Homo sapiens: one gene and its partners. The protein of the gene in region 3 interacts with the protein of the main gene of each other region in a biochemical or structural test. Each region holds a gene or a part of one and is shown on either strand. Other genes may lie near its edges.

Region 1 (7,052 bases), on a different chromosome or scaffold from region 3:
ATTTTGTTCTCCTTGACTTTTATACCATGTGCATGTGTTATTCGAAAAAATGAATAAAGTACATTCTCTAAAATAAATTACAAATGTAGATATTCTTTGAACTACTCCTAGAAATCTATCTTACAGACATACCTGCAAAGGAGCAAAATGCTATATAAACGAAGTTATTTGTTGTAGCATTGTTTTTAATACCACAAGACTGGAAACATTCAACAGAGGACTGATGATATATTCAGACACCCGGCCAGGCACAGTGGCTTACGCCTGTAATCCCAAAACTTTGAGGGGCCGTGGCAGGCAAATCGCTTGAGCCCAGGAGTTCAAGACAAATCTAGGCAACATGGCGAAACCCCACCTCTACAAAAAATTTTAAAAATTAGCTGGATATGGTAGGCATGCGCCTGCAGTCCCAACTACTCAGGTAGCTGAGGTGGGAGATTAACTTGACCCCTGGCAGTCAAGGTTGCAGTGAGCTGTGATCACACCACTGCACTCCAGCCTGGGTGACAGAGTGAGACACTGTCTCAAAAAAAAATTTACAGACACCCATACAAAAGAATATTATACAACCCACTACTCCAAAAAAGAAGAAAGGCATTCATTACATACTGACACAAAATAAGATGTACTATTAAGTGACATATGTGACCACTTGTACTAAAAGGTAATATACACACAAAATTGTTCATAGATGCATAAAATCTCTGGAACACCACACAAAAACCTAGTAAAGCTACTTGCCTTTGAAAAGGCAACTGTATGGCAAAGAACAGACCAGTAAAGAGACTCTTCACTGGGTATCCCTGAATTTTGGATTGCAGTCATGGATTATGTATACAAAAATTCACTATTCCACATGCAGCTGTAGATGTTTTCATGTACCCTGCCTTGCCTTGCTGTGATATTAAAGTCCATCTAAAGCCTACTGTTTTTCCAGTTCCTCCATAGAGAGGTCTGAGGCTTCTTTCTCCAAGAAGCCCCAGATGTTTCAATGATACCAGAACACTTTTCATTTTTTAATTTTTTTAAGCACACAGTTCCCACAGTTCTGTCTCCTTTCATTGAATGGCATTATAACCTCAGCCCCAACTACTGAATCTTATCTCTAGTAAATCCCCCAAGGCCACACTTCCCTTAAAGTTGACTGATTTTTCTAAGTTTCTAGTACCTGGGCACTTTCTCTCTCAAGATCAACTGTATACATAAGAGAAAACTTTTATATTTTATCCAACATTTTCATCTGTTTACAGTAAGAAGAATGGGCCTAACTTGTGTCTGTGTCATTTTAAGAAATTTAGATAAAGACAGTATAAACAATAACAGCAAACACTGAAGAAAGTATGATCACTGAGAAAAGACTGCTAAACTTGACAGTTCATCCGGAAGGCCAGTAGGAAGGGAAATGTGAAAAAGAATGGTTAAAAAATATGTTTGCAAAGTTGAAGTCAAGAACAGATAGTGATTAAATGTAGAAAGCAAAAGTAGATTGCACTTTTAAAAGGTATGGAGGGAAGAGAAATTTCAAATCTTCAAACTGCAGGAAAATACAAAATATTCCCCAAATACCTATGTGAATTTTTATTTAGAAAGAAAACCAAAGTTAATTATTTCAACAAAAATACTTTAAATATGATGGTGCTGCCTCATCTAGAACATCTAAGGTCCCACTAGAAATAATATAAAATCACTGTGCAGTCAATCCTCCTTATCTGTGGGTTCCAAATACATGGATTAAACCAACCATGGATAAAAAATATTCAGGAAAAAACTGTGACTGTACTGAACATGTACAGACTTTTTTCTCATCATTTCTAAAACAATATAGAATAACAACTATTTACATTGTATTAGATATTAAGTAATCTAGAGAGGATTTAAAGAATAACAATAAAATGTGCATAAAACAAATTCTACACCATTTTATACAAGGGACTTCAGCGTTCTCATATTCTGGTGCTTGCAGGAGAGTCCCGGAACCAATCCTCTGTGGAGACCGAGATTTTTAGCAATCTATGTTCAAACATACTACAAGGCAGAGAAAAAAACAGCAGCATCAATGACCTGGAATTGTATAACTGTTTTAGTCAAATAAATAATTCATTAGTAACCAGGATAATAGAAAACCTCAAAAAAATTAAAATACATAAAACCCAATTTTTTAAAAACAGATTTTTCAATTCTCACTACAACTATGTTCTCTCCAAAGCGTAAGCTAGTAAGGAAAGACACTGCCAACTGGAAACCTAGGTCGGCCCCCATGGAGAATGATGGGTCATGTCTTTTAAACAAAAGCAAACAGAAAACATTCATGTGTTCAACTTTATGGACTGTCAAACCTAATGCAAGCTTGAATTTAATTCAAGAAAATTATTATTTTAGCAAAAGTCCACATTAAATAGGGACTGCTGTGTAAAGAGACTACTTATTTTTTTTTTTTTAACTAAGAGTTATATTCCTATCACCTATAATGAGTTTTGTGGAATCCACAACTCTATAATCAACTTGTAAACACGTAACTTACATATTGGTTTATCATTCCCAGATTATTAAAAAAAAAAAAAAAGCACCTATGACAACACTACACAGGCCCAGACTCAAATCAGCACAAATATAAAGTACAAGTACTCTAATTGCTCTTCAAATTCCCAAAGTCTATCCTGACCCTCTTCTGAAGCAGCAACTAATACCACGTCAATTCACGTGAGTGGGGTCCTCAGGCCATAAAAGCTCAATTAAAGCAAAGTCTAGAGTAGTGCCACCCAACACAACTTTATACAATGATGTAAATGTCCTTGGGTATCTGTGCTGTCTAATACAGTAGCCATCAGCTGCATATGGCTATCTAAATTTAGATTAAGTAAAATTTAACATTCAGTTTCTCAGTCACAGCAGCCACATTTCAAGTGCTAAATAGCCACATGTGGCTGGCAGCTACCTGTTAAGATAGAGCAGGTCTACAGCAAAAATTTCTCCAAGACCTACTGTTCTTCAGCTGTGCTTCAAAGGCTTCCTGGTGGTGAGGATGAGAGGAAAACTGATCAGGCAGGACTTCAACAACTGCCTATTCTTCCTTCCACAAAACAGCTTTACTCCTTTTATCTGTTTTACATTTCGAAATTCTGCATATTTCTCTCTAAAGGCTTTCTAGTTGCTGCTGTGTGTGCAGGTGTGCACATGTTTTAAGTCTGACTACTACTGGTTTCGAGCAGAAATGGCCAATGCACAACCTCAGGCCAAAGCTGGACCCTCCTGATAACTAAAACATTTTTTAAAAAAAAGTTTAATTGATCAGCTAACATGAACTACAACCTAACTACCTGTCTATTAAGAATTTTAGGCCGGGCGCAGTGGCTCACGCATGTAATCCCAACACTTTGGGAGGCCAAGGTGGGCGAATCACCTGAGGTCAGGAGTTCGAGACCAGCCTGACCAACATGGTGAAACCCCGTTTCTATTAAAAATACAAAATTAGCCGGACATGGTGGCGCATGCCTGTAATCCTAGCTACTCAGGAGGCTGAGGCAGGAGAACTGCTTGAACCTAGGAGGCGGAGGTTGCAGTGAGCCAAGATCGCACCACTGCACTCCAGCCTGGGCAACAGGAGCAAAACTCCGTCTCAAAAAAAAAAAAAAAAAGAATTTTAAAAGTGGATCTCAATAAGGAAAATTTACATTTACTACCACAGATAAAGTATCTCTAGTCAACAAAAGAGTTTCAATAGTTCACTCAAGTCAAGGCAGAAGGCTCACGGGCCCAGCTTCCACTGCATCATTTATGAGGATTTTATATAGGAGGCTCTGCAAAAAAGATTTGCCACCCCACATTTTCTTTTTTTTCTTTTTTTTTTTTGAGACGGAGTCTTGCTCTGTCTCCCAGGCTGGAGAGCAGTCGCGGGATCTCGGCTAACTGCAACCTCGGCCTCCCCGGTTCAAGCAAGTCTCCTACCTCAGCCTCTTGAGCAGCTGGGACTACAGGTACCCGCCACCACACCCAGCTAATTTTTGCATTTTTAGTAGAGACAAGGTTTCACCATGTTGGCCAGGCTGGTCTCAAACTCCTGACCTCAAAGTGATCCGCCCGCCTCAGCCTCCCAAAGTGCTGGGATTACAGGCGTGAGCCACTGCCTCCGGCCTCACCACCTCACATTCTGAAATGAAAGACGTGATGAGGATGGAACGTTTCCTTGATATTTACAAGACCTTAACCATTATGTCTCTACAGAATTTCTGGAAGTAGCTGAAGCAGCATATGAAAATGTAGTTTACTTTTAAACATAGGCAAACTATAAGATCACAGATTCACTATGCTACTTCCTCAGATCAAGAGTCTTTTTTGACTTAAGAGACTCAAACTAATGAACAGATGGAATACCAGTGGTTCACCCAAGATTATTCCTACTGAATACATTAAATGTGAAACTACATCCCCCTTCCCCACAAAATGAGGGAAGGTATGACACTGTAGATTATTCAAGGAAATGCAAATTTTTACATTAAGGTAGACACGTGTACTAAACAGAAGCAACTAAAGTCTATCCTCGCTTTCCACTACTCTACAGCCTTGAGGCCAATGTAAAACCAGATTTTGAAAAATGACAGGGCTACCTAGGATAATTAGTGACAATTTCACAGTAAATTCACAAACTTTGATAAGAATTAATCACGTCAGAATTTCTATTTTCTTAAGACTACAAACCTAAAGATACATCAAGCACCTGTCCTATCAATGTGCCTCAGTTACAAATAAGAGGAACCCACTGAGCCAAGGAGAACCACTCACACTGTACAATGTGAGGCAAGCACAGAAGACACAGAATTGCCCTAATATTTCTGGCTATCTGACCAAACTAAAGGCAGTGTCTAAATCCACCTGGCTTGGAAAAATTATATTCTCCCTACATGAAATTGCTGAACTGAAGCTGCGAGCTATCTTTGAGATGTAAATCTAGAATCAACATTGAATTATGTCCTAACTGAATACATCACAATTACACCAACCTGAAAAAATGATCAAAATTGATCAATGACAAGCAATAAGCCTCTAACTATGCATTTTTAAACCAAAAAGGCTAGTACTTTTGTACTACTGCTAAAAAAAAACCTGATTCTTAAAAACAGCCAAGGCTACATATTACAAGGTCACCAATAATTATCTGATGGTGTAGATGGTTTAAGAAGTAACCCTGAGGTAAGGTTACAAGAAAGGGGATCAAAAAAATTATCAGTGCTAATACTGGGCAGAAGTCACATGACAAGAGTCAAGAAACCCTCAACAGAGAGACTGGCCAACTATCCACTCTTGCTTTATCCTAGAAATCTCGAGCATACTCTATCTCAAAACACAGTGAAAAGCATACACTACTGTCAAAGCACAAGTGAAAATTTATATGATACTCCTGCAGACTGACAAAAAAATTACTTACACCAAAGAAAGGGGTGACATAGGGTGCTACCACACTGAAACAGCCTTTCTTTACTGCTGGCTACCCTTTCAGCTTGGAATCTGAATGGCTGTCTGAATGGCAAAACAAATGAAAAACATCTTGGTCATAACAGCTACTGTGATCTTTCATGAAATAAGCCATAAGCTATAGCACAATCTTCAACCCCTTTAAGAACATTTCTTAATCATCCTGAGTGACAATCTAAAGTATATTACGTAGATTATTGCACTCTTAAAAAGATTTTCCCAAACATGATTTAGGCTAATTGATGAACATTCATTACTATGCTTTCAGGTCTGGTCCTGCACTCAATGGCCCCAGACATGCTAGTCAGGCTTTGACTATTTTTGTGTCTTGTAGATTATCTCTATTATCCTCACCGAGCTGTTATCTGTTTTTTCTGACAAGAGACACTAGGCTAACATCCTACTCCCCAGCCCCCACCACACCCCCTCTAAGCCTCCCACAGTACCCATAATCTACTTGTTTCTAATCTAGTGCAGGTTTAGAAGCCAGATAACTTTGCTTGTTAGAAACACTTTAAATAAATGCCAACACATTCTTATTAAGGGTCTCCAAGGCTCTCCTAAGCTTTAAGCTATGGACTGGGACAATTTGGCTATCCCAGGCCTTTGTTGTTCATTGTCTGCTTCTCAAATACATTTTACAATAGGTCCATAATAACAGTGTAGGCAAATCATTTGGATTAGAAAGAGCCCAAGTAACAAACCCACAACTACAAGAGAGGAAGAAATCATTTGGGAGGACCCTTATATCTCAGGCAATGTTCTAGGTACTTGAATTGTGATCACTGAATAAGAGGAAGGGGTTAGTACTTCCATTTTGTGTCAGAAAACCAAGGGCCTGGGGTTGGTAGTAAATTGCCCAGTATTGTAACTGAGAAACAAAATATTAGGCTAGGGCTCTCTGATTCCAAAACCCAAGGCCTTTCCACTACATGAGACTGCTGTCCAATCCTGGGTCTCGGTTTAACTAACTTTTTACACTATTCCCGATCCTTTCACTGAGTTATTCAACTCTGCTTTCTTTCCTTAACCAGCTTCTGTAATTAAAGGGCAATAAGTGATCAAATTAAGGTCAGATGAAGCTTAGCTCTACAAGTGTACATCTGTTCAGCAATAAACATGTTTCTGAAAGACTGGCCGTATCTTCAGTTTGTATAGACTGTGCAAAACTGGTGCCAAGGTCCCCCCAAAATACACAGATTGTTCCCAGTGACACTGAGTAACACTTCACATCTTCCCTAGTGCTATCTGCTACATGTTACAGGAAGCAAGGCAAGCTCACTTTAGGAATGGCTCAGTAATGCATGTGCCCTTGATTTGTACACTAACAACTGTCTTACTCTAAACACTGGAGAATAGGGCAAGGGACATGAGTTTCCACTTTTCTAACTCCATTAAGGAACAGGGGTGTACTTGTTTGCTGTTAAGAGACTTTATTGCCTAGTCCAGAGCCTGACACACAGAAAAAGCTGTTTGTTGAATAAATGAATAAATGTATTTGTTGAAAATAAATGCATCGGCCAGGCGCGGTGACTCACGCCTGTAATCCCAGCACTTTGGGAGGCCGAGGTGGGCGGATCACC
Region 2 (2,835 bases), on a different chromosome or scaffold from region 3:
AGAACCAAGGAAAATTCTTTAGCGGGAGCTTTAAGATGCTCTTCCTGACTCCCAGTCCCCCATTCGGACTACTAGACCCCTGCCTACCCCTCGAGTCCCCTCATTCCCAGCCCCTGAACCCTAACCCTGAGGCATTCATACCAACTTCTCCCAAGATTCCTGGAGAGTTAAGAAACTCCTGACTCCAGTCTTGACTGAGTTTCCCTCATCCCCCAGCCCCTCCCCACTCCTAGCTCCCTTTGGCCTTCTTCATCCCAAGCCTCTGGACACCCTTGTGGCCTCCAGCCAGTCCCCTCCTTGATAAGCTAGCCACCTCTGAGACCCTCAAGGGCAGGTCTTTGGCAGGAGAGTTCAGATGTACCTCTGGATGCCCAGGTGGCCCTCTATTCCTGCCCCTGCCCCCCCCCACACACCTAAAACGACCCTCCTGGTTCCTTGACGGCTCCCTGCCTCCCCCAGCATTCTTCAACCCCTGGCCTGAACAACCTCCAGTGCTGAGCCCTGGCCCTAGCCCCAAACCACCAACCCTAAGATCTCCCAACTCAAATCCCAGAGTTGCTCCCAGCCCCAAAGATCCTTGGTCTCATGGTATAAAGGGTAGTGGGACCCTTCATCCAGGCCTTCTAACAAGTCCCCTGCCTCCTTCCCTACCTTCCTCCCTCCCTCCTTCTCCCCCTCCCTCCCTGCCTCCTTCCCTCCTCTCCTCCCTGGCTGTGACTCCACAGTGGACCCCGTGGACATGGAGAGCACCCGCATGGACTCCAACTTTGGCCTGGCTGGGCTCCCTGGCTCCCCTAAGAAGCGGGTCCGTATTGAATGCAAGTGTGGGACTGAGTCCTGCCGCAAATACCTCTTCTAGCCCTTAGAAGTCTGAGGCCAGACTGACTGAGGGGGCCTGAAGCTACATGCACCTCCCCCACTGCTGCCCTCCTGTCGAGAATGACTGCCAGGGCCTCGCCTGCCTCCACCTGCCCCCACCTGCTCCTACCTGCTCTACGTTCAGGGCTGTGGCCGTGGTGAGGACCGACTCCAGGAGTCCCCTTTCCCTGTCCCAGCCCCATCTGTGGGTTGCACTTACAAACCCCCACCCACCTTCAGAAATAGTTTTTCAACATCAAGACTCTCTGTCGTTGGGATTCATGGCCTATTAAGGAGGTCCAAGGGGTGAGTCCCAACCCAGCCCCAGAATATATTTGTTTTTGCACCTGCTTCTGCCTGGAGATTGAGGGGTCTGCTGCAGGCCTCCTCCCTGCTGCCCCAAAGGTATGGGGAAGCAACCCCAGAGCAGGCAGACATCAGAGGCCAGAGTGCCTAGCCCGACATGAAGCTGGTTCCCCAACCACAGAAACTTTGTACTAGTGAAAGAAAGGGGGTCCCTGGGCTACGGGCTGAGGCTGGTTTCTGCTCGTGCTTACAGTGCTGGGTAGTGTTGGCCCTAAGAGCTGTAGGGTCTCTTCTTCAGGGCTGCATATCTGAGAAGTGGATGCCCACATGCCACTGGAAGGGAAGTGGGTGTCCATGGGCCACTGAGCAGTGAGAGGAAGGCAGTGCAGAGCTGGCCAGCCCTGGAGGTAGGCTGGGACCAAGCTCTGCCTTCACAGTGCAGTGAAGGTACCTAGGGCTCTTGGGAGCTCTGCGGTTGCTAGGGGCCCTGACCTGGGGTGTCATGACCGCTGACACCACTCAGAGCTGGAACCAAGATCTAGATAGTCCGTAGATAGCACTTAGGACAAGAATGTGCATTGATGGGGTGGTGATGAGGTGCCAGGCACTGGGTAGAGCACCTGGTCCACGTGGATTGTCTCAGGGAAGCCTTGAAAACCACGGAGGTGGATGCCAGGAAAGGGCCCATGTGGCAGAAGGCAAAGTACAGGCCAAGAATTGGGGGTGGGGGAGATGGCTTCCCCACTATGGGATGACGAGGCGAGAGGGAAGCCCTTGCTGCCTGCCATTCCCAGACCCCAGCCCTTTGTGCTCACCCTGGTTCCACTGGTCTCAAAAGTCACCTGCCTACAAATGTACAAAAGGCGAAGGTTCTGATGGCTGCCTTGCTCCTTGCTCCCCCACCCCCTGTGAGGACTTCTCTAGGAAGTCCTTCCTGACTACCTGTGCCCAGAGTGCCCCTACATGAGACTGTATGCCCTGCTATCAGATGCCAGATCTATGTGTCTGTCTGTGTGTCCATCCCGCCGGCCCCCCAGACTAACCTCCAGGCATGGACTGAATCTGGTTCTCCTCTTGTACACCCCTCAACCCTATGCAGCCTGGAGTGGGCATCAATAAAATGAACTGTCGACTGAACAAACCAAGATGTGAGGTGCTTGTGTGGGTGGGGGTTGAGGGGATAGAGGCTGGGAGCTGGGTTTGCCCAGGAACATGTTCCTCAAACCTCAGCCATTTGACTCTAATCCTCACAATTTCAGCCCCCACAGCATATCACTTACACCATCATCTATATAACATCTTGACCTAAAATAAGTTTGTTTTATACTTAAACTTTAAAATGCACTTAAGGCTGGGTGTGGTGGCTCACATCTTTAATCCCAGCACTTTGGGAGGCCGAGGCAGGCAGATCGCTTGAGCTCAGGAATTCGAGACCAGCATGGGCAACATGGTGAAACCACGTCTCTGCTAAAAATACAAAAATTGGCCAGGTGTGGGGGCATGTGCCTGTACCTGTAGTCCCAGCTACTCAGGAGCCTGAGGTGGGAAGATTGCTTGAGCCTGGGAGGTGGAGGTTGCAGTGAGCTGAGATCTCACCACTGCACTCCAGCCTGTCTGTCTCCAGAAAAGAGCCAAACCCTGTCTCAAAACAATGCAATTAAATTGACTGGT
Region 3 (6,897 bases):
GTTATTGCAATGAATGAAAATTGTTTCCATTTTGGCTAATTGAGCCGGTGGCCGAAAGCTGGAGCCCTGAGACTAAATAAAGAGGACTGTTTCATTTCAACATGAAGAAACCCCTGCCTAGCTCTGGTCACCCAGCGAGAGTTTAATTTCTTAACAGCCAACCTGAAACCCAGCATTGGGTAAACAGTATTAATAATTGCATTACAATGATTAAATTAATCTTGCTGGTAGCCAGGAGAATATAGGTTGTGATTGAATAGCATGATGTAAAGTTCACTGCACAAAGACAATAGGCCTCGAAATACCTCCATAAAGAATTCAAACTTTCTTCCAAAGATACCGTGGGGCCGGTTCAATTAAAATGAGAGGAAAGGAAAACTTCCTGTTGCATGTAATGTATTGAAAATCGGTTATTTGCCATTTCTAACATTAATTTAAAAAATATAGTTGGGGAAGGGATATACTTGTCTGTGTCTTTCTCATCAATGTCCCATTTTCCTTCTAACTTCTATCTCAATCTCTTCACTTCTGCTAAACAAACAAAAACACGAAACAAAAAGTGACAGCAATAAAACAAGCAAACCCAGACAGTCTGTAAACCCATCGACTTTCCAACGAGGCACTGCTTCCAGGATGCTCGCTTCCGTGGGAGAAAACACAAGGAAACGTTGGAATGCATGCTACTGTCCCCCAAGAAAACGAATTTCAGGAGGAGAGGGAAAGGCGAGAGGTGGGGTGGGGGCGGGTAGCTAGGGCAGCTCCGCCAACTTGTTGGAGGCCTCTTTTCTCTTGGGCCAGCGACAGCTCAGACATCCCGTCAGAGGGTGTCGGGAACTCTAGGGGCTGCTGAACAGTCACCTGCTCTGGTCTCACGGCTGGGACTGGGACAGGTGGAAGTGACAGGGTCCAGGCACTTGAGAATGGGAACCGGCCGGGGCGGACGCGCAGAGGTCGCGGCGCTATCAGCCGCGAGCGCGACCGGTTGCTGCTGGGTGTTTGCTCCATCAGGTTAAACACACTTGAACTAGCAACTTAGCTCTTTATTAGCGCACACTTAGGGCAGAAAGCTAATGATAAAGAAAGAAAAAGAAAAGGAGAGAAAAGGAAAAGAAGCCCAGCTTTTAGGTTTGAAAATAAAAAACGAATGATATTGAGAATACTTTTATTTATTTAAAAGACGATGTCTTGTCTTTTCACAATGGCTTGGTCTGGGGACAGAGAAGAGTTTGCGTTTATTATTTGTTAGAAGGGGTTGGATTTTCTCGTGGCCCGAAACTGTTAGAAAGACCAGGGAGAAAGCTGGAGCGCTGAAGCGACAGCGGAGACTTCAAACCAGAAGGGGAGGGGTACTCCAGCCGCGCCTCATTCCGCCTCCCACTCCGCCAACCCCCCTTCTAGAAAAGTTTAAAAGACGGGGACCTTTAAATTTGGAGGTTCGGAGACTCCGATTCACTTCAGTCTTCCACCTCCCACCCAGTTCCCCTCACAGAACCCACCCCCTACCTCCCCAACCCTCCACGTGGTTTATAATTTCTCAGCAGCAACAGCAAGCTCAGCTTCACATGTGGGTCTTGCATTTAATCTCAGAGTTTGGTACCTTGGTCCCCTCCTTTCCTAGGAACATTTCTTGCACCCCTCTTAACCTCCCGTCTCCAAGGGAACCTAGACATAGACAGACCCCCTGGGGATGAGGTGAAAGGGATTAGCCGGAGGAGTGGAGGGGAGGATGGCGGTTCTTTTCTTTTTTCTTTTCTTCTCTTTCTTTTTTTTTTTTAAGCTACCTTGGCGGTTGGGCACCAAGGCAAGGTGCTCAGCCACCCCTGGGGTGCCTGGCAGGGAAGGTGAGGATTGGAGGGACAAGACCTAGATTTTGACAGCTGGGATCTTCAGGTGCTGCTGGTCTGTCCCCTGGCCTAGGGGATGGTCCCTAGAGAGTCTCTTACACCGATCAGAAGCAGCCTTATGAACTTCTTGCCAGTCAGCCTAGTGTTTGTCTCTCCCTAGAGATTTTGTCCCCCCTTCCAAAGCCTCTCAAGACCCATTTCTCCGTTTCCTCGGAGGACATTTGCTGGTCAGAGGGTAGGCACCTCTCCATCTAAACTGAGGGAAGCTGGTGGAGTCACATTTTGGGGGAAGTTTCAGAGTCAAAGACCTGTGTGAACCTAACAGAATGTTGGAATGGCTGGTGCTTTTGCACACACCAAATGTGTTAGCACACTCACCTTTATGCACAGGACAGCGGGAATTCTAGGTCTGGAAAAAAACCCAGGTGCCTCTTTAATTCAGAGTGGATAATAGAGTTCTCTTGTGCCCACGCGTGTGGGCACTAGAGCCTTCTCTTTTGGAAGTTGTTTTACTCCTGTTGTGAGTAATTCCCTCCTTTACCTTCCTACTTCCCTTCCTCACATTTCAACCTTATACATCTGTCTCCCTTGAGACCTGTAGCTTGGTTCTCCAGGGACCTCTATCTTACAGCCAAATGCCCCCAGAATTACACAGCTCTGGATAAAGGAAAATGGTAGGCATCCTTAACAAGGACAAATTCTTTGAACTTTGATTCTCTTGAATAAAGAGATTTGCAGGCCATTGATACCCTTTGGGGTTGAACCTTGTTATTTGCTCTCTCATGTCTGCAGTCCTAGATTTGATAATAAATACCAACAGGTACGACTGGGCATTCTCAATGATTCCCCTTTCCCTCCACAGCCTTTGCCAAACTCATGCCCAGGACCTGCTTTTCTTTTCCTTTAACTTGAACATCAAGGATGTATTGTTGCAGCACGGAGACTGAAAAGATTGTAATTTTCTTTTATGGTGTCTGGCAGGATTTGCAACAGATATTAATGGGGACATAAATAGCACATGGAAGGTATTGAACAAAACTGTTTAATGCAAGAAGGTTGTACCAAAAGAAAATCTATACCTAGTTGGGATTGATTCATACCTTGTACACAGCTAGCCCCTTTAGGAATTCCCATTTCTGAGTGGCACTTCATTGGTAAATCCTGTAATTAAAGGAAATTTCAACAATGTATTTTTTTAAGAGTGTGTGATTTTCCTCCCTACTCCTCTTTCTTTTGACCCCGAGGTTGTAGGTTTAAGCGAGTGAGTGAAAATGGCAGGCAAGCAGAGCTGCATCGGGAGGCGACCGGGGCAGCAGTGGGGGAGGCCGGAAGGTGACAGCCGACCTCTGAGAAAGCAGGAGGTCTTTGGATGTCAAATGCCAGCGCCGGCCCGGACCCGGGAATCAAGGGTGATCATTACTACTTGGTAGGGAAAGAATACTGAAATGTCCCAAGGATGGCAGCAAGCATTGGTATTACAGCTAAAATCGAGGAAAAAACCAGTTATTTATTCTGCTTACAACCCTGAAAGCGGAAGCTGCAATAGCTTCAGTAGCAGTAGCAGCGGCAGCAGTAGATTTCTCAAGTTCAGGATGATTCTCACTTTCTCCTGGATTATTAGCCGAGGGTCCAGCCCTTCTAGTTCTTTAACAGGAGAAGGGTTTTTAAAAAATGTTTTTAAAGTTTTTTTCCCCCCTGGCTTCTTGCTTCCCTCGTAGATGGTATAGAAAAATGTCTGCAATTTATGGTGGGAAAAACAATAACAATAATCATGATACAAGCTTGTTGGCGATTCTAACATGGAATCAATCCTCTGCCCAAGCCTTTTCAATTCCCCCCTCCCCTTTTTTTGGGCGAGGTGTCTGCTCCCCTCTGGCTCCCTGCGTTCGCTCCCCGCCCCCCGCCGCCCTCCCCGCGGCTCCCTTTCTCCGCCTCCTCGGCGATTGCCATCTGACAAGATCTCCAAATCAAAGTGATAAATCGCTCCAAACTTTTTTTGGCGGCGCTGAGATGTTGGAGGGGCGTCTAGCGCGCATGTGCGAAGGTGTCCAAACTGACAATGCTGGAGAGATAGCGAGTGTGGATTGAGAGAAAGGGAGAGAGGGAGGGAGAGAGAGTGAAAGAAGAAAATACAGAGAGTGAGTGTGTGGAAGAGAGAGAGAAACAGGAGAGAAACAGGAGGGAGGGAGAGAGAGAGAGAGAGAGAGAGAGAGAGAGAGAGAGAGAGAGAGAGAGAGAGAGACAGGAGAGAGAGGGAGGGAGCGAGAGGGAGAGCAAAAGAAGGAAAGGATCCAAGAAAAAAAAGCCCCAACCACACACCAGCGGCTGCAGGACTGGGCACAGCATGAGATCCAAAGGCAGGGCAAGGAAACTGGCCACAAGTAGGTGCAATATCCCTTTTCTATTGGCTTTTCCCCCTCCTCTGCCATCTTGCATATCTGTCTCTAGCGCTCCGGGAGGGAGCGCGGGCTGCCTCTTGCGCCGGGGCCCCGGGTGGAGGGCAGGCGGAGCGCAGCCCCAGCAACCTGCCGGTTCCAGTCTCTGCTCCCGGTCGCCCGCGCTCTCGCTCCCGGGTTGGGCGCCGGAGGAGCCTGGGCAGCCCTCAGTCCCGCGCACCGACCAGCTGTGGCAACCCCGGGGTGGGGGTGGGGGTGGGGGCAGCAAAGACTAGGGGTGGGAGGGAGGAGAGAGCGCGAGAGTGAGCGCGAAGGGGTGGGGTGGGGGGGAAGAGAAGAGGAGAAAGTCTCCCCCTCCCCTCCCCTTCCCCCCAGGCGGGGGAGAGTTGCCTCTGGCCAACCAGCTAGTCCCGGGTGTGGGAGGAGGGGGGCGCGGGGGATGGGGGGCCGGCAGGAGAAGGGAGCCTTTTCGAGCCTCGGTTTGTTTCTGGGGTTTGGGTAGGGTAGGCGGCTCAGAGGGAGCCACAGTGGCGGCGGCGGCGGGCGGCTGTGGTGGACTTGGGAAAAGTTGCGAGGCGGCCGCTGGAAGTTGCGCGGGCGGGCGGGTGGACTGCGCCGAGCCGCGGCTGCGGTAGTGGGCGCTGTGCGCTCGGCCATGCTCTCCGGCGCGGCGCTGCGCGGCGGGAGGACTGCGGCGGGGAGTAGGGGACACCAAGGTGGGGGCTGTGATCGCGGGGTGGGGGCGGGGGCACGGGCAGAGCAGAGCTACCGGCTCCGCACAGCCACGCGCAGGTGGGGAGGAAAGAGGCCCAGCGAGCGCTCGGACGTGGGGAGAGAAGAGGCCCAGCGAGCGCTCGGAGAGCCGGGAGTGGAGGGCACACAGCCAGCGGCGGCAGCCTAGGAGCAGGAGGCAGAGAGGGCGCGCTGCGACCCGCGCACCTCGGGCTTGCTGGGCGCCGAGCAAACCCCAGGGGGCGGGCTGCCAGAGCGTTGGGCCGCGGAGAGGGCGCAGCGCAGCCTCCGGCGCTTCGTCTGGGTGCAGCCTGGGTCCAGGGTCAATAACCCTCCCCGGCGCCCCCTGCCTGCCCGGCGCGGAGCGGCCTTGGTCTGGCGGGATGTGGGCTAAGGGGTTTGGGGAGGGGGCGGTGGGAGTCCCATCCCCCACTCTTACAGCAAAAGTGTTGGATGACTCGCCTGGCTTTGCCGGCGGGGCCCACACTTTCCCACACGGTGTGATGCTCCGCCAGGACTGTAGACGACAGGACTGCGTTTGTCCAAATGCTTCTACTTCGAGTTGAAGGGGACTCAGGGACACTGAGCCCCGGAGCGGCTGGGAGCGCTCTTCCTTGAGGTGTCAATAGGCGGGGCTGGAGCTGCCTCGGGAGTGGACAGGCCGCGGTTCTCTCTCCCACACTCGCACTCGCCGAAAACAAAACTCTCTAATTGTGTTGTTTACGGAACGCAGAAATGAGAGATCGGAGATGGGTGGGATGCTTCTCCCCAGTGAAATCCCAGTCTCCCCCCGCGCGACCCTCGCACATTAGAACCAAATACGGTAGGTATCGTATCCACGCCTCCTTGCTCACTGCGTCCCTGCAGCAGCCCGGGAAGTCGGCGGCACCTCAGCAGGCTCGGCTTCGCGGGCATTGGAGTCGGCGGTGTAGCCCCGCGAGATGCTGTCATCCCAGGCGCCTTTCCAGTGCTTTGTGCAGTCCTCACCCAAGCACTCGTACACTCCCCGATACATTTCCTTTCCCCTGGGTCTGAGAAATCAACCTAAATATAGGGCTCTTTGGGTCATCAGTCCATCTGTTTCTCTTTTGGGTGTTGTTCTTTACACTCGCTGCTACAGTGTCAAAGGGCGCCGGTGGAACTGTTTTCCCTGTTTGCTTTTAAATGAGGCCGATGTCTTTATTTTCATCTGAAGGGAAATAAATGTACATATACTTGAGGTTTGCGGGCTTCGATTTGGACTAAAGGTTGGGAGAGAGAGAGAGTGTGTGTGTGGGGGGGGGAGTTGGCGGGAGTGGGATGGTGGGTGGGGGTGGGTAGCCCTTTTCAACCATGCCTAAGTTGTGAAGTGAAAGCTTAAGGCTTCGCGCCGCAACTCACTGCCCGATAACTTCTGAAGTGAAAGCAGAACACAAAACCCTTCGAATTTTCTTGAGCAACTTTTTCAACTATTTTAATTGCCAAGCAAGACATACGATGCCGTCTTAAAATATTCCCGCACGCACAGTCCACTCAGCATCCAGAAACTGAGCCTCGTTTCCGATCTGATGATACTTGTCATTCAACTGGTGGGAGACCCATTTATTTTGTCCCCAGGGTCTCTAAGGATGCCGCTGCCGCTTTCTGATAGCTAGATCTCAACTCTTACAAACTTTTACTGAGCCTCAGATTCCCGCTTGCACTACTCCAGCTGTTGCTGCCGCAGCTGCCTTTCCCAGACAGAAGCGCTGCGTTGCAATTCTTCAGTTACAATCTGGGTAATAAAGGAAATCATATTAAAACTACAGATTTTTGTATTTTAAAGCGCGATTTCCTTCCCCCGAGTAGCGCGTGGCGGAGATGGTTGGTGACCCCTGCGGTGCAATCATCCAACGAAAACTTCACTGCTCTGCACCAGTTTTTCTTTTTCTGGGTTTAGAAGGGGA
Region 4 (7,000 bases), on a different chromosome or scaffold from region 3:
AGCCCTAGCGTCAAGAGCAGAAAGACCAAAGATCAGAGAGAGGCCAAGGCCTGGCAGGCAGGAGGGGCCGGGCCAACAGCAGATGATGAGGAATTGCAGAACGATGTTTGCTGGCACCGAACAGCTGTAGGCACTGTAAACACACGCTCCATCTTATCCTCATCCCAGCCCTGGGTGGGGATGCCAGCATCATCCGTACAGATGAGAGAACTAAGGCCCAGGGAGGGAGAGTGACTTGCCTGCAGTCACACTGGTAGAAGAGCTGTGTCTAGAACTCTGCCCTCTTGGCTTCTTCCTTAGTCTCATTTTAGGCAGATGGCTTTAGGATGACCCTCTTCAGGAAGTTAGGTCTTCAGCTCATTGTTCCTCTCCTCCTCTGTTGCTCCATTTCTGACTCAGGGACCCTGGTGATGCTGAGGAGCCCAGGATATTAAAACTGAGAGTCCGGGAAGGGAGGAGGAGATTTGGGTAGTTATAAAGGAACAAAATTTTCTCGCTGAGAAATGACTTTTTTAGAGTCCTACATACTGGTTTCTTTTTCTTTTTCTTTTTTTTTTTTTTTTTTTTTGAGATGGAGTCTCACTCTGTCATCCAAGCTGAAGTGAGTGGCACCATCTTGGCTTACTGCAATCTCTGCCTCCAGGACGTGCCTCAGCCTCCCAAGTAGCTGGGACTACAGGTGCGTGCTACCACGCCTGGCTAATTTTTTGTATTTTAGTAGAGAGGGGGTTTCACCATGTTGCCCAGGGTGGTCTCGAACTCCTGAGCTCAGGTGACCCACCTGCCTCAGCCTCCCAAAGTGCTGGGATTACAGGCGTGAACCACCATGCCCGGCCCTAGATACTGGTTTAAACATGGCCCTGATATAGTCAGGTCTACCTGGTCTGCTTGGTTGAATCTCTCAGGCCATCCTGCTTTGGGTTTAGAGAATCCAGTCCCTTTTCTTTCCACTCACGGACCAAAGTTTGCGGAGAGGCAGGGCTGTGTGCCCCCGCCTTCTGCTCCACACTCCCCCCTGCCAGCCGCCAGCTCCTGCGGCAGATGCAGAGGTGCCCACATGTCAGCTAGAGCCAGCGCCTTGCAAGCTACTCTCCCTTTCTCTTCATTTTTCCAGATGTTTGGAATCCATTTTGTTTTGCAGTCATGCTGCACTCAGGCCAAACCCATTTCAATATTGGCCTTGGGCCACCGTTTGTAATGAAATCCAGATGAGCATGACTTATGGAAAGTCAGATTCTCATTAGAGGATTTCATCCTGTAAAATCCTCCTCTTCCACTTACCGTATTTTAGCTGCTGTTCTTCTGTGTCTGCCCCAGGGTGTCAGGGAACACAGCCCCTTGGTTTCTTGGGTGTCTCTGAAATCCAGGAGTGACCAGTGGAGCAATCAAAGTGGTCAGACCTCAAAAGAACTTACAACTATGTTATGGCCTGAAGAGATCAGCCCAGGCCCAAAGGTCTAGCCAGAGAAATGTTTTAAGCAATCTTTTAGCCCTGGCTTAGCTCATTTAGGGAACAGGAGTGAAAGGTTAGAAAATTAATCTTTTTTTAGTGAAGAAGGGAAATATTTAAAGATGGACTGCAGTGGAAAAGAGTAAGGGGATGTCCATTTGCTCTTCTTATACCAGACTGTAGTCTGGAGGGCCACACTCAGGTACCCTCGCTCGTGCAGACACCCCAGGGTCTGTCTGCAGGCCCATTTCTCAACCTCCCTGCTACACAAGCAAAGTAGAGGCCAAGCAAGGAGGGTGGTGCCTTCAAGACAGCAACACTGTTCCTGGTGTGGCATTGCAGCTCTCCCGCTCCAAGTGCTAGGAAGAGGCTCTTTGGTGGCAGAGCCTTTCCCTGGGGACACTATCACCACGCGGGATGTCCTGCCAGCACACCCAGTCCTCTGTGGCCCACCGCGTCACCGCTGCCTGGCAGCACTGCACAGCAGCCTGACGGGCGGGCGCGGCCCCTTCCCAGAACAGCCTTGTCGTCCTCCTGCCTCTTGGGCCAAGGAGAGTAAGGTTTCAGCTCTTCTCTCTGTGAGGTGGCTGAAAGCAGGGCCCAGGGCCCACACCTCTCACCTCCAGCTGGCACCAGCGACTCCAGCCTCAGCAGATAGCCTTTGCTCAGTGGAGGCCTTTGGGAGCCTGCCTGCAAGCTGCGTCATCAACCAGCCTGAATTTAGACAAAGTGCTTTGGGGAAAAGAAACGTGTGGTGTGCCTTGTTTTTTTCCAGTAATTGTTCCATGGCTCGTTCTGCTTGTAAGATTTTCCAAAATAAGGCCGTAGATGAGAATTATATCAGCACATTGGGAACCGAAGGCATGCGGACACTGTTGGCGCTTTGTAAAAAACACCCCTCAATCAGACAGACACACGTCATCGTCGCCTGCTGGGGCTGGGCCCAGATTTCGAGATAGGGGAGCGGCACGTGCCCGTTTGGTACAGATGGGAGCCAGGAAGCCCTTTGCTCAGGATGGAGGTCTCCTCTATTAGGGGGCCTGTTACAGTAACTGGTGGGCCTCTGGGGTACCCTGCAATTGACTTTACATATTTAACTCTTTGCCATTGACTTTACATGTTTAACTCTTTAAAGTCGACTTCCTTCCCCCTCAAGAGAACTTAATTTACTCAAAGTCCTCCCTGGGTAGAGGAGTTTGGCCGGGTAGTTTCAGCAAGTTACTGGTACCGCTTCTAGGACAGCGTCTAACAGCATCTTTGGGAAGATGACTGTCACCAAAGCAGAAAAAGCTTTCTGACTTGTGTAACCCCCTGGAGATTTTTTAAGTCCCCCACCCCACCCCTTTCCCTATTTCTTACAGGAGACAGACTGTGACCAGTACCCCCTGCTGGATTGAGCTGCACCTGAATGGGCCTTTGCAGTGGCTTGACAAGGTCCTCACCCAGATGGGCTCCCCAAGCATCCGCTGTTCCAGTGTGTCTTAGAGACATCAAGTATGGTAGGGGAGGGCAGGCTTGGGGAAAATGGCCATGCAGGAGGTGGAGAAAATTGGAACTCTACTCAACCCATTGTTGTCAAGGAAGAAGAAATCTTTCTCCCTCAACTGAAGGGGTGCACCCACCTGTTTTCTGAAACACACGAGCAAACCCAGAGGTGGATGTTATGAACAGCTGTGTCTGCCAAACACATTTACCCTTTGGCCCCACTTTGAAGGGCAAGAAATGGCGTCTGCTCTGGTGGCTTAAGTGAGCAGAACAGGTAGTATTACACCACCGGCCCCCTCCCCCCAGACTCTTTTTTTGAGTGACAGCTTTCTGGGATGTCACAGTCCAACCAGAAACACCCCTCTGTCTAGGACTGCAGTGTGGAGTTCACCTTGGAAGGGCGTTCTAGGTAGGAAGAGCCCGCAGGGCCATGCAGACCTCATGCCCAGCTCTCTGACGCTTGTGACAGTGCCTCTTCCAGTGAACATTCCCAGCCCAGCCCCGCCCCGCCCCGCCCCACCACTCCAGCAGACCTTGCCCCTTGTGAGCTGGATAGACTTGGGATGGGGAGGGAGGGAGTTTTGTCTGTCTCCCTCCCCTCTCAGAACATACTGATTGGGAGGTGCGTGTTCAGCAGAACCTGCACACAGGACAGCGGGAAAAATCGATGAGCGCCACCTCTTTAAAAACTCACTTACGTTTGTCCTTTTTCACTTTGAAAAGTTGGAAGGATCTGCTGAGGCCCAGTGCATATGCAATGTATAGTGTCTATTATCACATTAATCTCAAAGAGATTCGAATGACGGTAAGTGTTCTCATGAAGCAGGAGGCCCTTGTCGTGGGATGGCATTTGGTCTCAGGCAGCACCACACTGGGTGCGTCTCCAGTCATCTGTAAGAGCTTGCTCCAGATTCTGATGCATACGGCTATATTGGTTTATGTAGTCAGTTGCATTCATTAAATCAACTTTATCATATGCTCTTTTAAATGTTTGGTTTATATATTTTCTTTAAAAATCCTGGGCTGGCACATTGACTGGGAAACCTGAGTGAGACCCAGCAACTGCTTCTCTCCCTTCTCTCTCCTGAGGTGAAGCTTTTCCAGGTTTTGTTGAAGAGATACCTGCCAGCACTTCTGCAAGCTGAAATTTACAGAAGCAAATTCACCAGAAGGGAAACATCTCAGGCCAACATAGGCAAATGAAAAGGGCTATTAAAATATTTTTACACCTTTGAAAATTGCAGGCTTGGTACAAAGAGGTCTGTCATCTTCCCCCTGGGATATAAGATGATCTAGCTCCCGGTAGAGGATCACCGGTGACAACTATAGCAGTTGTATTGTGTAACAAGTACTGCTCCCAGCAGCAATTAGGGAGAAAACTAGTCTAAATTATTTCAACTGGAAAAAAGAAAAAAGAGTCCTCTTCTTTTCCCAGCCTTTTGCAGAACACAGTAGACAGAACTGCCACCTTCAATTGGTACTTTATTCTTTGCTGCTGTTTTTGTATAAAATGACCTATCCCACGTTTTTGCATGAATTTATAGCAGGAAAAATCAAGGGATTTCCTATGGAAGTCCTGCTTTATTCCAGGTGAAGGGAAGGAAGTGTATATACTTTTGGCAAGTCATACAGCTCAAATGTGATGAGATTTCTGATGTTAGAGGGAGATGGAGAGGCTTCCTGATGCCTCATCTGCAGGGTCCTGTGCCTCTGAAGTTCTAGCCATGAGGTTTCCAGGTAGGACAGCTGCTCCCCAAGCCTCCTGAGGACACAGGAAGAGACGGAAGGAGCACCTTGACAGACTTGTGTGAGTCTTCTCGAAGGAGGGTTGACTCAGAACCCAGAGACAATACAAAACCCCTCACTTCCTCTGAGAGGGCCAAATGCTGTGAGTCTGAAGTATGTGCCTGGTGTGAAATGATCTATGGCCTGTTTCTTACACAGGAAGCCCCCTGAACCTCCTGTACATGTGTTCATGTTCCCAGCCAGCTCTGAGACCCAGGAACCAAATATTCCATTTTGGCTTCTGCTAGAGCAGTCATGGTTCCTCTCCTAAAAGCCATGGGCAGCAGTTTCCGAGGGCCTGCATGATCCACCTGCTGCACGATCCTATGAGGGCTTCCTGTGGCACACAGCCCTCTGGGTGCTTGGGAACTAGCTTCAGGCACAGCCTGATTCTGGTGATCCAGTGATCTATGGAAGTCGTGTCTTACTCCAGGTGAAGGGGGAAAAAAAAAGCCTATACTTTGGCAGGTTATGAACTTTGAATGTGATGAAATGACACGTTTGGCTGCATTTGGATGGTGTCTTAGAACCCTCATTGCTCAGACCTGAAGGCTACTTCTAGGAGCATGAAGTTTGAGTTTTGTGTTTTTCCAAAGGATACTTCCTTGGCCCTTTTTCTTTATTGACTAGACCACCAGAGGAGGATGTGTGGGATTGTAGGCAAACCCACCTGTGGCATCACTGAAAATAAATTTGATCATACCTAAGAGGTTAGGAAATGGTGCCATTCCCACCTTAGAGTGCTACATAGGTGCTTTGGGCGTATGTAACATTAGTGTCCTTCCTTGAAGCCACAAGCTAGTTTTCTTAGTTTTAAAATCCTGTTGTATGAATGGCATTTGTATATTAAAACACTTTTTTAAAGGACAGTTGAAAAGGGCAAGAGGAAACCAGGGCAGTTCTAGAGGAGTGCTGGTGACTGGATAGCAGTTTTAAGTGGCGTTCACCTAGTCAACACGACCGCGTGTGTTGCCCCTGCCCTGGGCTCCCCGCCATGACATCTTCACCTTGCAGCTTGTGCTGAGACTGACCCAAGTGCAGCTAGCACTGGGACACAGATCCTTGTCTTCAGCACCTTCCAAGGAGCCAACTTTTATTCCCTTTCCTCTCTCCCCTCCCCACCTCGCTTCTTCCCAATTTAGTAACTTAGATGCTTCCAGCACATACGTAGGTAGCTACCCCAGCCGGTTTGGATTACAGGCCTGTGCTGGAACATCATCTCAGTTGGCCACCTTCCTGGCAGGCTGTAGACCTGACATTTTGAGACAAGCCTAGAGGAGTCAGGAGCAGGGACTTTGACTCTTAGGAAGAGCACACATGAGGGCAAGGCTGCTGGCAGACGTCTCCATTGTCCTTATGTTGTCTGTGTTGTATTTTTTTTTTTTTATTGACCATGGTGATTATTTTTTTAAACCATCGTTAATATACTGAAGTGAGCTATAGCACATATCATGTGCTTAGTTTGTTTATTTTTCTCCATCTCCCCTTGGCTTCCTAGAGTTTGGACATATTCCAGGCTAAATGCTTTTACTCAAGACTACAGAAAGGTTTGAAGTAGTGTGTGCATGGCATGCACGTATGTAAGTAATCTGGGGAAGAAGCAAAGATCTGTTTCATTCTTAGCCTCAGGCCTCATGAGGGTCTCCACAGGGCCGGAGCTCAGGTTACACCACTCCTTCGTCCTTACAGGAGATGTAGGGAGAAGAATCTGCAGGCTGCTTGTAGGACTGTTCACCAAGGGGGATACCAGCAGCAAGAGAGTGCACCCGTTTAGCCCTGGACCCTGTTTCTTACTGTGTGACTTGGCTAGAGTTGGGAGTTCCCCCAAAATAAACGTGTCCCCATTTTACCAGAACCAAACCTCAACACAGCGAAGCTGTACTGTCTTTGTGTGGCAAAGATGTTCCCTTGTAGGCCCCTTTCAGGTAACCGTCTTCACAATGTATTTTCATCACAGTTTAAGGAGCATCAGCCGCTTCTCAAGTGGGTAGGGAAAGCAGAAAAACGTACGCAAGAGGACATGGATCCAAAATGATGATGAAGCATCTCCCATGGGGAGGTGATGGTGGGGAGATGATGGGCTAAACAGGCAACTTTTCAAAAACACAGCTATCATAGAAAAGAAACTTGCCTCATGTAAACTGGATTGAGAAATTCTCAGTGATTCTGCAATGGATTTTTTTTTAATGCAGAAGTAATGTATACTCTAGTATTCTGGTGTTTTTATATTTATGTAATAATTTCTTAAAACCATTCAGACAGATAACTATTTAATTTTTT

Evidence for each region.
Region 1: the proteins of MECOM (region 3) and SMAD2 form a complex in vitro, tested with the Homo sapiens proteins (one study listed by BioGRID).
Region 2: the proteins of MECOM (region 3) and SUV39H1 form a complex in vitro, tested with the Homo sapiens proteins (one study listed by BioGRID).
Region 4: the proteins of MECOM (region 3) and SMAD3 form a complex in vitro, tested with the Homo sapiens proteins (2 studies listed by BioGRID).

Annotation. Positions count from the first base shown.
Region 1 is NC_000018.10:47,920,631-47,927,682, forward strand, and holds part of SMAD2 (mothers against decapentaplegic homolog 2), read right to left. Parts: intron 1-7,052. UniProt on the Homo sapiens protein: Receptor-regulated SMAD (R-SMAD) that is an intracellular signal transducer and transcriptional modulator activated by TGF-beta (transforming growth factor) and activin type 1 receptor kinases.
Region 2 is NC_000023.11:48,706,712-48,709,546, forward strand, and holds the end of SUV39H1 (histone-lysine N-methyltransferase SUV39H1), read left to right. Parts: intron 1-725; coding exon 726-859; 3' UTR 860-2,305; downstream 2,306-2,835. UniProt on the Homo sapiens protein: Histone methyltransferase that specifically trimethylates 'Lys-9' of histone H3 using monomethylated H3 'Lys-9' as substrate. Also weakly methylates histone H1 (in vitro).
Region 3 is NC_000003.12:169,660,664-169,667,560, reverse strand, and holds the start of MECOM (histone-lysine N-methyltransferase MECOM), read left to right. Parts: upstream 1-3,848; 5' UTR 3,849-4,188; coding exon 4,189-4,225; intron 4,226-6,398; exon of another isoform or gene 6,399-6,725; intron 6,726-6,897.
Region 4 is NC_000015.10:67,187,602-67,194,601, forward strand, and holds part of SMAD3 (mothers against decapentaplegic homolog 3), read left to right. Parts: intron 1-2,811; coding exon 2,812-2,935; 3' UTR 2,936-7,000. UniProt on the Homo sapiens protein: Receptor-regulated SMAD (R-SMAD) that is an intracellular signal transducer and transcriptional modulator activated by TGF-beta (transforming growth factor) and activin type 1 receptor kinases.